2 separate regions of the Homo sapiens genome follow, and region 2 is linked to region 1. Evidence: fine-mapped expression QTL. Tissue or cell type: breast. Region 1 holds a variant in brackets; the other region holds the start of a gene. All regions are shown on one strand. Distances are from middle to middle.

Region 1 (4,381 bases):
CCAAAAGGATAAACACGCCCAGGCTCAGTGGCTCACACCTGTAACCCCAGCACTTTGGGAGGCTGAGCCAGGTGGATCACTTAAGGTCAGGAGTTCGAGACCAGCCTGGCCAATATGGTCCCTATTAAAAATACAAAAATTAGCTGGGCGTGGTGGCGCACGCCTGTAATCCCAGCTACTCCAGAGACTGAGACACAAGAATCGCTTGAACCCACGATGTGGAGGTTGCAGTGAGGCGACATCACGCCACTGCACTCCAGCCGGGGTGACAGAAAAAGACTCTGTTTCCAAAACAATAAAACACAGTTTGATTCCACTTATCTATCAAGTGTCTAGAGTAGTTAAATTCATAGAGTTGCAAACTAGAAAGGTGGCCTCCAGGGGTGGGCGAGAGAGAGGAGTGGAGAGCTTGGTGAATGGGTGCAATTTACATTTTGAAAGATAAAACTGTGTTGGAGACGATGGCAGTGATGGTTGGTAAACAATGTGAACGTACTTAATGTCATGAAACTGTAAACTGAAAAAGCATGGAAATTATAAATGTTTATACCGGCCATTCTATATGAACTAATATATATTTATAATTTTAAATATTTATGCGTGGTATATTTTCCCTTAATAAAAGATGAAAATTAAAGCAGTTGGATGTTTAAAAAGAAAAGAAAGAAGCAAAGAATACACACCAGCTTTCTCCTGATTAGAGGAAGAGCCCCAAAGCTTCTATGGACACTCACTTTTCTCTTCTTCTTGCATTATTATGAGGAAATCCTTAGAGGTTGGGGAACTTGGGTGACTTTGTCTAATAAGGAGCTCTGTGCCTTGAGCCCCCCAGGCCACAGAATAGTAAATAGTCAGTCTGTGCCTCCAGCCCTACAGTGTGAGGTTCCAGTCCTGTGGGCTCCACTTCCGTCACCTGTATCAGGAGGCTCACATCTCACCCTGTCTTCTTGCCAGCCTTGAGGATGGAGTCTGAGCCTCCATGGTGCACCACAGAAGGAGGACACTGGACCTGTTCTCCGTGGTCATGGCCCAGCAGAGGGGAAGGGCAGTTCAGTGAGTGTAGGGAAAAGAAAGAGAGATCAGACTCTTACTGTGTCTATGTAGAAAGGAAAGACATAAGAGACTCCATTTTGAGAAAGACCTGTACTTTCAACAATTTCTTTGCTGAGATGTTGTTAATGTGTAGCTTTGCCCCAGCCACTTCGACCCAACCTGAAGCTCACAAAAACATGTGTTGTATGAAATCAAGGTTTAAGGGATCTAGGGCTGTGCAGGACGTGCCTTGTTAACAAGATGTTTCCAAGCAGTATACTTGGTAAAAGTCATTGCCATTCTCTAGTCTCAATAAACCAGGGGCACAATACACTGTGGAAAGCCGCAGGGAGCCCTGCCCTTGAAAGCGGCGTATTGTCCAAGGTTTCTCCCCATAGTTAGTCTGAAAAGTGGCCTCGTGGGAGGAGAAAGACCTGACCGTCCACGAGCCTGACACCAGTAAAGGGTCTGTGCTGAGGTGGATTAGTCAAAGAGGAAATCCTCTTGCAGTTGAGAGAGAGGAAGGCCGCTGTCTCCTGCCTGCCCCTGGGAACTGAATGTCTCGGTATAAAACCCGATTGTACATTTGCTCAATTCTGAGATGGGGGAAAAACCGCCCTATGGTGGGAGGCGAGACATGTTTGCAGCAATGCTGCCTTGTTATTCTTTACTTCACTGAGATGTTTGGGTGGAGAGAAACATCAATCTGGCTTACGCACACGTCCAGTCATAGTACCTTCCCGTGAACTTCATTATGACATAGATTCTATTGCTCACATCTTCGTTGCTGACCTTCTCCTTATTATCACCCTGCCCTCCTACTACATTCCTTTTTGCTAAAATAATAAAAATAATCATCAATAAAAACTGAGGGAACTCAGAGGCCTGTGCCAGTGCAGGTCCTTGGTATGCTGAGCGCCGGTCCCCTGGGCTCACTGTTGTTTCTCCATACTTTGTCTCTGTGTCTTATTTCTTTTCTCAGTCTCTTCCCACCCAACTAGAAATACCCACAGGTGTGGAGGGACGGACCACCCCTTCAAGTGAGTGCTGAGGGACGGTCGGGAGCCTTGTTTGGTTTCCTCCTCTTCAGGACAAACAGGAGAGTGCGCTGGGCAGATGGGAGGAGACCAATGTGCAAACTATCCGCTCAGCAGAGTGTGGAGTTTCTGTTCCTGGTTGTGCTGGGGGGTCTCAGAAATCTACTTCAAAATTTTGCTACCCTCCCCCACTGGTTGTCCTTTTCATAGACATCTCACCCACCATAGCAGGGAATGAGTCCCTCTAAACTATTCCCTCAGGAATAGTAAGAGCCAGCCCCTCTTCCCCCCCTGGCTCTTAGGACCCCCATCGCAGGGGGGTGAGGCACCCCCCGCGATGCGGGGAGTACGAGTCAGCCCTTCTCCTCCCCTGGCTCTTAGGGCACCTATCGCAGGGGGGTGAGGCACCCCCCGCAATGCGGGGAGGGCTGAGACTGGGGTCTGGGCTGTTCCGGACTTCAACACTCACCCCTTGTCCCCCCGCAGGGCTATGGCGTGTGCTTGGTGGGGCTGGAGCGGCTGGCTTACCTCCTCGTGGCTTACAGCCTGGGCACCTCAGCCGCCTCACTCCTGGGCCTGCTGGGCCTGTGGCTGCCACGCCCGGTGCCCCTC[A/G]TGGCTGGAGCAGGGGTGCACCTGCTCCTCACCTTCATCCTCTTTTTCTGGGCCCCTGTGCCTCGGGTCCTGCAACACATCTGGATCCTCTGTGTGGCAGCTGCCCTTTGGGGTGTGGGCAGCGCCCTGAACAATACTGGACTCAGCAGTGAGTATAGCTGTGGGCACTGGAGGGGGCGGGGCAGGGGGCTTTATGGCTATCTGTGGGTGGTTGGCTAGGCATAGACATCCCAGAGACAGATATGGGGTCCCATGGTCACATAGGGTCCTGTGGACATGGCAGAGGCAGGTGGGGCTTCCTGTGGACACTCCGGGGGTGGGAGGAAAGTCTCATGGACACACTGGGGACAGATGGGTAGGGTGTGGACACCCTGGAGACAGTTGTGGGGGTTCCACGCCATGGACATTCCGTTAATACCCCAGGGCGGGCACAGGGCCGCATCAACACTGGAGGGTCAGTGTGAAATCTCGTGGCTACACGGGGCAGGTGTGGGGCTCTGTGGACACCCCTTAGGGACAGTGTGAAAAACACATCAGGGATTCTCCCTTTTCATACCAGGGGACAGGGCTTACCCTGGCATTGTTTTCGTGACATTTGGAGCAGATATTTTGGTCTCTGCCTCACGGAGCATATGGTAGGAGCAAGTGGCCTGTTGTACATCCACGGCATAGATACAGACATGGGCCTTTGTATAGAGAGGAGCAGGCCTGCAGCCCCAGCCCAGTCTGCTCAGTACCAGAGTCCAGGCCCCAGGTCTGGGCTGCTGGGGAACAGGGCCCTGTTTGCAGAAGGCAGCGGGTGGGCCCATGTTCAGCTCCAGGATGCTCCCTGACCACAGATGGGCACACACAGTGACACACAGCTAGCACACATGGGCAGTCCTGCCGGGCATCCATGTCAGTGTCTGTTCTGATGGGCCGAAGCTGTGAACAGTTTTGAACGTCATCCTTGGGGGTGTGGAGTGGCCGAGGTCATGCCTGCTGCTGGCAGGGCAGAGGCTGGCTCGGTGTCTCTGTCTGTAGCAGGGGCTGGAGCCTCATACTGCACCACAGTCTCTTGGCCGTTTTGCTCAAGGATAGCCAATTCTGGGCAGAGTCCAACCTGGGCATCTTGAACCCATGTTGTGCCCTGTCTGGTCATGGCATCTCCTCTGCCCAGCTGGTGAACCCCGGGGGATCCTTGTCTCTTCATAGCAGCACTGTGGGGGTAAAGTCACCCTGCAGGGCCCCAAGACAGGAGTGTTCATGTCCTGAGTGCCTGGTGAAGGTGTTAATAGTGGCCCCTATGATTTGGCAGGTGCCATGCCCTCTTTCTCACTTTAGAACTTCAGAACACAGCACACAATAGGCATAAGCTCATCTCACCATTGGGAAAAGCAGCTCTGGGGAGTTAAGTACCCAAATCACCCACAGAGCCAACATTACAGTCCTGAGAACGAGTGTGCATCTTCTGACTCCCAATCCATTACTCTTGTTGTCCACCCTGGGAGGACTCACTGGAAAGGAAGCCCCCCTCTCCATGCTTAGCTTCAGGTTTGATTTGCAGAGTTGGCAGCTGCAAACAGTTCGATCCCTCTAGTCCCGGCTGAGAAGGAGAAACAGCGCCTGCAAGCTTGGCACTGCACACCTGGGGTTGGGGACAGGACATGACTAAGCACAGAGCTTTCTTCTTTTGAGGCCACGCATGTGGTGCGGAGCGG
Region 2 (4,381 bases), 970 kb before region 1:
GGGAGGCTTTTAAGGTGGATGGTGAGGTGTGGAGGGGAAGGTGAGTTACAGGAGGGAACCAAGGCCTCCTCTTGTCCCCTCCTTTGGAGGAAAGTCAGAAGGCATTGCTGCACAGACCAAGGATGTGGAGAAAGTAGAGGCCTGGGACAGGGGCGGGGGCGGACACGGGGAGGTGTCAGCCTGCAGTGTCCCATCTAGGGCTAGGGCTCACCTCAGGCAGCAGGGGACACCGCTGACACAGGTGACAACAACAGGACAGGGAGAGGGAGGGGACACAGGCTTGGGCAGGCAGGGTCACCTGAACCTTGTTTTGAGGGGAGCCTGTCTGGGCTGCCTTCAGGCGATCTGGCAATTCCCGTGTGGAGCTTGGAGAAAGGGAAGAGGGAGGCAGGATTTGGGGTCCGCTGACCTAGGGTGCTCTGCAAGCCGAGGAGTTGAGTGTTTTGGGAGACCCGGGGGCCTGGGGAGAGGCCCAGAACAGGGCCTGTAAGGACTGCAAGGCGGGAAAGCCCAGGAGAACTTGAGCAAAGCCCAGGGTGGGAATCTCACCCCGGGACAGGGCGGCAGAGCCGGGGCAGGAGAAGCTTCTGGAAAGAACCGTACACAGATCAAGTGTGCAGAGCAATGGAGACGGGCAATGAGGTCAAGAGGGAGGCCAGAGGGTCTGCCCAGCCGCAGGCGGAGGGGCAGGAGCCAGGGTTCAAAGCGAGGGGCAGGTGGGGTCAGGAGTGGGGAGGCCATGCTGTCAGTCACTTACGTGGGCCCAGCAGGTAGCCCGCGCTGTTCAGGGTCCAGCCTCGTTTTTCCTTGGCCTTGAAGGGAGAAAAGGGGATCAGATGCCAGGGCTGTGCCTGGAGCCTATGCTGAATGGGTGCACCCAGGCTTTCCCGGCATGGCAGAGGACTTAGAACAATGCATGTGCTTTTGGATAGCTCGCGAAATTCCAGGTTTACCCCTAAGTCGGCTATATTTGACATGAAAATGGAACCACTTTATTTACGAAATACTTCACTTGAGGGCCTGAGCCCGCGCACTCTCAGCGCACTGCACCTGCTTTAGTGACGCTGAGGCCACGCCAGTGGCTCCTAGCCCTCCATTCTAACTAAGCCCTGCGGAACGGGCGAGCTTCTCGCTTTCCCGAGGCGCTGACCCGAAGCGCAGAGCTCTCCCGGCGGCCTGGTTATAGCCCGGGGCTGTTGATACACTCGGAGAAGCGCGCGGGGGGAATCCCAGGGAGCCCCGGACCCTTCCCGCGACGCCCGCAGCCAGGACAGCGCCCGCCTTTCCACTTTCCACCCCCATCCCCGCGGGCAGGGCGGAGGCTGCCTCCTCCAGGAAGCCCTCCACGCCCGGCCGGCTCTGATGTCCCCTTCGCTCGGAGGAGACGCGCCCCGCACTTACCGGCGACCAGAGCCCCGCAGAGGCAGAAAGGGCCGCGGCGAGGAGGAGGGAGGCGAGCAGGAGGGCGCTGCCTCGGGCCATCTGGAAGGGAAGGACAGGGCGGGCGGGTCGGAACCCGGAGTGGGCTGCGCCCCGAGGCAAGGAGTGCCGGGGCTGCGGGGAGGAGCAGAGGCGGCGGCCGGGCCAGGGCCCTGGCAGAACCGTCCCTGGGCAGAGGAAAGCCGAAGGGGAGGCCTCCCGGGGGCGCAGGGTCGGCCCGGCGCCAGTAGTACCTTGAGCTGCGGCTGCGCCCGGGTTCGGAGCGTCGGGGTCCGGGTGCGGTGGCGGGTCTGGGCGGCAGGTCCGGGCGTCGGGCCGGGTCGGGTGGGCTCTGGCGGCCTGGGGCGCTCACCGCATGGCGCGGCCGGCAGCAGGGGCAGAAGGCGCGGGCCGGGTCCCTCCACGTGTCCGCCGCCCGGTGTGGCCGCCGCCACCGCCGCCGCTGCTATATATGCGGCGCACCCGGGAGCCGCCCGGAGTCGCGTCACCGGCTCAGCGCCCGCCTCCTGCACCCTCGCCGAGCCCCGAGGGCGACGGGAGTGACCCGAGCTCGGGTCCTCTGGGCCATCATAGGCGGGTGCGGCGGAGAGCCCCCCCTCATCCCGCGGGAGAGACTCCCCCAAATCTGCAGAGAGAACCCCAAACCCTGTGGGAGAGACCCTAATCCCGAAAGACAGAGCCCAATCGCCCCGCGGGAGAGCCCCCAGACCCGTGGCCCAAGTCATCGCTGTGGCGTCAACCCCACTGCTCCCCCCGGGGTCCCAGCCCCAGAGCAAGCCTGACCCCCCACAACGTCCCACGCCTGCGGTCTCCCTGCAGCTTCTCCTCCCAGCCCCTACCGCTGCAAAAGCCAGCTGAGCTCCGCAGCACTGGAGACCCCAGAGGGTGACGGGCAGGGACGACTCCTCAGTCCGAGCCAGCCCCAGCTGGGAGGTCATGGGGTACCCGGGGAATGGCGGGCAACACTTGGCCCTGCGCCCTGGCCGGCTTGTGCTGGGGCTGGAGCGAAGGTTCAGGCCTCGGGAGCCGTCGATGGCGGGGAGGGCAGGCGTTCCCGGCTCCCTGTGCCCAGCGACCTCCCTCCTGTTTCACTAAAGGGGGGCTGTGGATCTCAGGGTCTGCTTGGCCATCCCATTGTGGGAGCTGCGGGACCGTCGAGCATCCACAGGCACCAGCTCAGAAGCTCGGCCTCTCAGTGCCTCCCCTGGCTGCCTGGTCCAGTTGTAAGAGGGAGCTTTAAGCAGGTCCAGCCATTGGGCAACTGGTTAGGTCCAGAGGGAGAGCAGCCCAGACTCCCAGAGGCCGCCAAGGGGTGGGCGGTGGGCAGAGCAGCAGCAAGAGGCTGTCCTTGTGCCCAAGGCAAAGACATCCCACAGGAACAAGGCCCTCCTTGGCTCCTCCACAAACCCTTCCTGAGCTGGGGCCAAGTCCCGAAACAACCCAGGAGAGAACCCAAGCCTAGGCTGTTCCTTCACCCCATTCCCAGGCATCAGGGGAGCACAGGATCCCAGGCATCACACTTGTACAGTGTGGCACCTCCGGGCTTCCGAAGAGCACGGGGTCATCTGCTGAAAACTCGCCTGACCTCCCCTCCCACTGGCCAGACACCACCCAAGTCCTCAACAGCAGCAGCTGGGTTAGGATCTCCCCACCCACTGGGCTCAATATCAGATGGGTTGATGTCACATCTGTGGGTTGATGTCCACAGGGCACAGGACGAATGATGATCATGACAGTGTCATCTTACCTGTCCTCTACACTTTAGTCTTGGGAACCTTTGCACAGACAGCTACAGGCTGCCCCCAGGAGAGATCCGTCTGCCTCCACGTGGCTGGGGAAGGACAACTGGGCTTTCAAGAACTCTGGCGAAGGCCAGCGGCTGCTGGAGAAGGTGCAGGGCTGCAGCCTGGTGGCTGAGTGTCTGCTGTGGTTTATGGGAGGAAGAGGAGGAGACAGGACTTGGGGAGGGGTCTTAGGAACAGACTCCTGGCACGACAGTGGTGAGGGGTGGGGTGTTCCCAAGGGCACAGTTTGACTTCTGGTCATCCCTATTTCTTGCAGCCTGGGGAGAGGAGAGTCAGGCACAGGGGACCCTAACTAGGACTCACAGGCTGATTTCGGAGCCCACAGTAAACCCTGAAGTGGTTTCCTGCCGGGAGTGGGGGCGTGGGAGACAGTGAGTCGCCATGAGAGTCTGGGCCAGCCGTGGGCAGAAGGACAGCCGAGAGGCGGAGGAGCAGAGGGCACGTTCCTGTGACTCTGCAGAGAAGTGACAATGATGTCCTCTCATGCCCCATGTCCTTGTGTCTAGATGACATCAGGGAGTGGGCAGGGGCTGGGCTCATGGGTGCCTCTTGGCTACCTGAGAAATACTGCAACCTTTGGCCCCCGGTGGTAGTGGGAGCCCTGCTACCATCCCAGAGCTCTTTCTTGCTTTCTGCTGAGAACAAATCCAGCCCAGTGCATAGCACATCTTAGTCAATTCCAGCCTTCTCCTTTCTTCCACGTTAGGCCCCCTTCCAAATCCTGCCAGAGCTTGACTACACTTATTTTCTCTATTTACTTTGTCACAGAGGCTCTTAGTCTGTTTAAAGGAGCACAAACTCTAAACCTAAATCCTTGAGATGGATTCGAAAAGAGACTCAAAGTCCATCCCTTAGTCATGGGCTGGAATTTGAGGTACATTAAACTTTCAGCTGTCTTCATTTGGGCCTATGTACTCTTTTTGTTTCCTTTTTTGCTTTCAAAGAAACTTCAGACTGGGCGCAGTGGCTCACGCTTGTAATCCCAGCATTTTGGGAGGCTGAGGTGAGTAGATAGATCACTTGAGCCCTGGAGTCCAAGACCAGCTGGGGCAACATAGCAAGGCCTCATCTCTACTAAAAATAAATAAATAAATATTTTTTAAAAATCAGCCAAGCATGATGGCACGTGCCTGTAG

Alleles and levels. Positions count from the first base shown, and alleles are read on the strand shown. Sizes are in standard deviations (SD) of each study's normalised expression.
In carriers of allele A in region 1, the expression in breast of the gene that starts at base 1,862 in region 2 tends to be lower than with G alone (small effect, 0.36 SD a copy in GTEx).

What was found. PIP is the estimated chance that this variant, and not a neighbour inherited with it, causes the effect.
Region 2: it holds the start of GAL, and the variant in region 1 is the best candidate, but not a certain one, in a credible set for the expression of GAL in breast (GTEx, PIP 0.51).

Annotation. Positions count from the first base shown.
Region 1 is chr11:67,714,180-67,718,560 of GRCh38, reverse strand. It overlaps the pseudogene UNC93B5. Among named protein-coding and RNA genes, the nearest start is that of ALDH3B2, 42 kb to the right of the region's middle. RefSeq lists an enhancer at 118-649. The variant A/G (reference allele first, on the strand shown) is at 2,682.
Region 2 is chr11:68,682,025-68,686,405 of GRCh38, reverse strand. It overlaps GAL (galanin and GMAP prepropeptide), which reads right to left and starts at 1,862. Exons shown (of 6, transcript NM_015973.5): 1 at 1,674-1,862; 2 at 1,402-1,482; 3 at 758-812. The coding sequence starts at 1,482. The region is part of intron 2 of LOC107984343 (a long non-coding RNA gene); the gene reads left to right. RefSeq lists enhancers at 1,116-1,791, 2,468-3,143.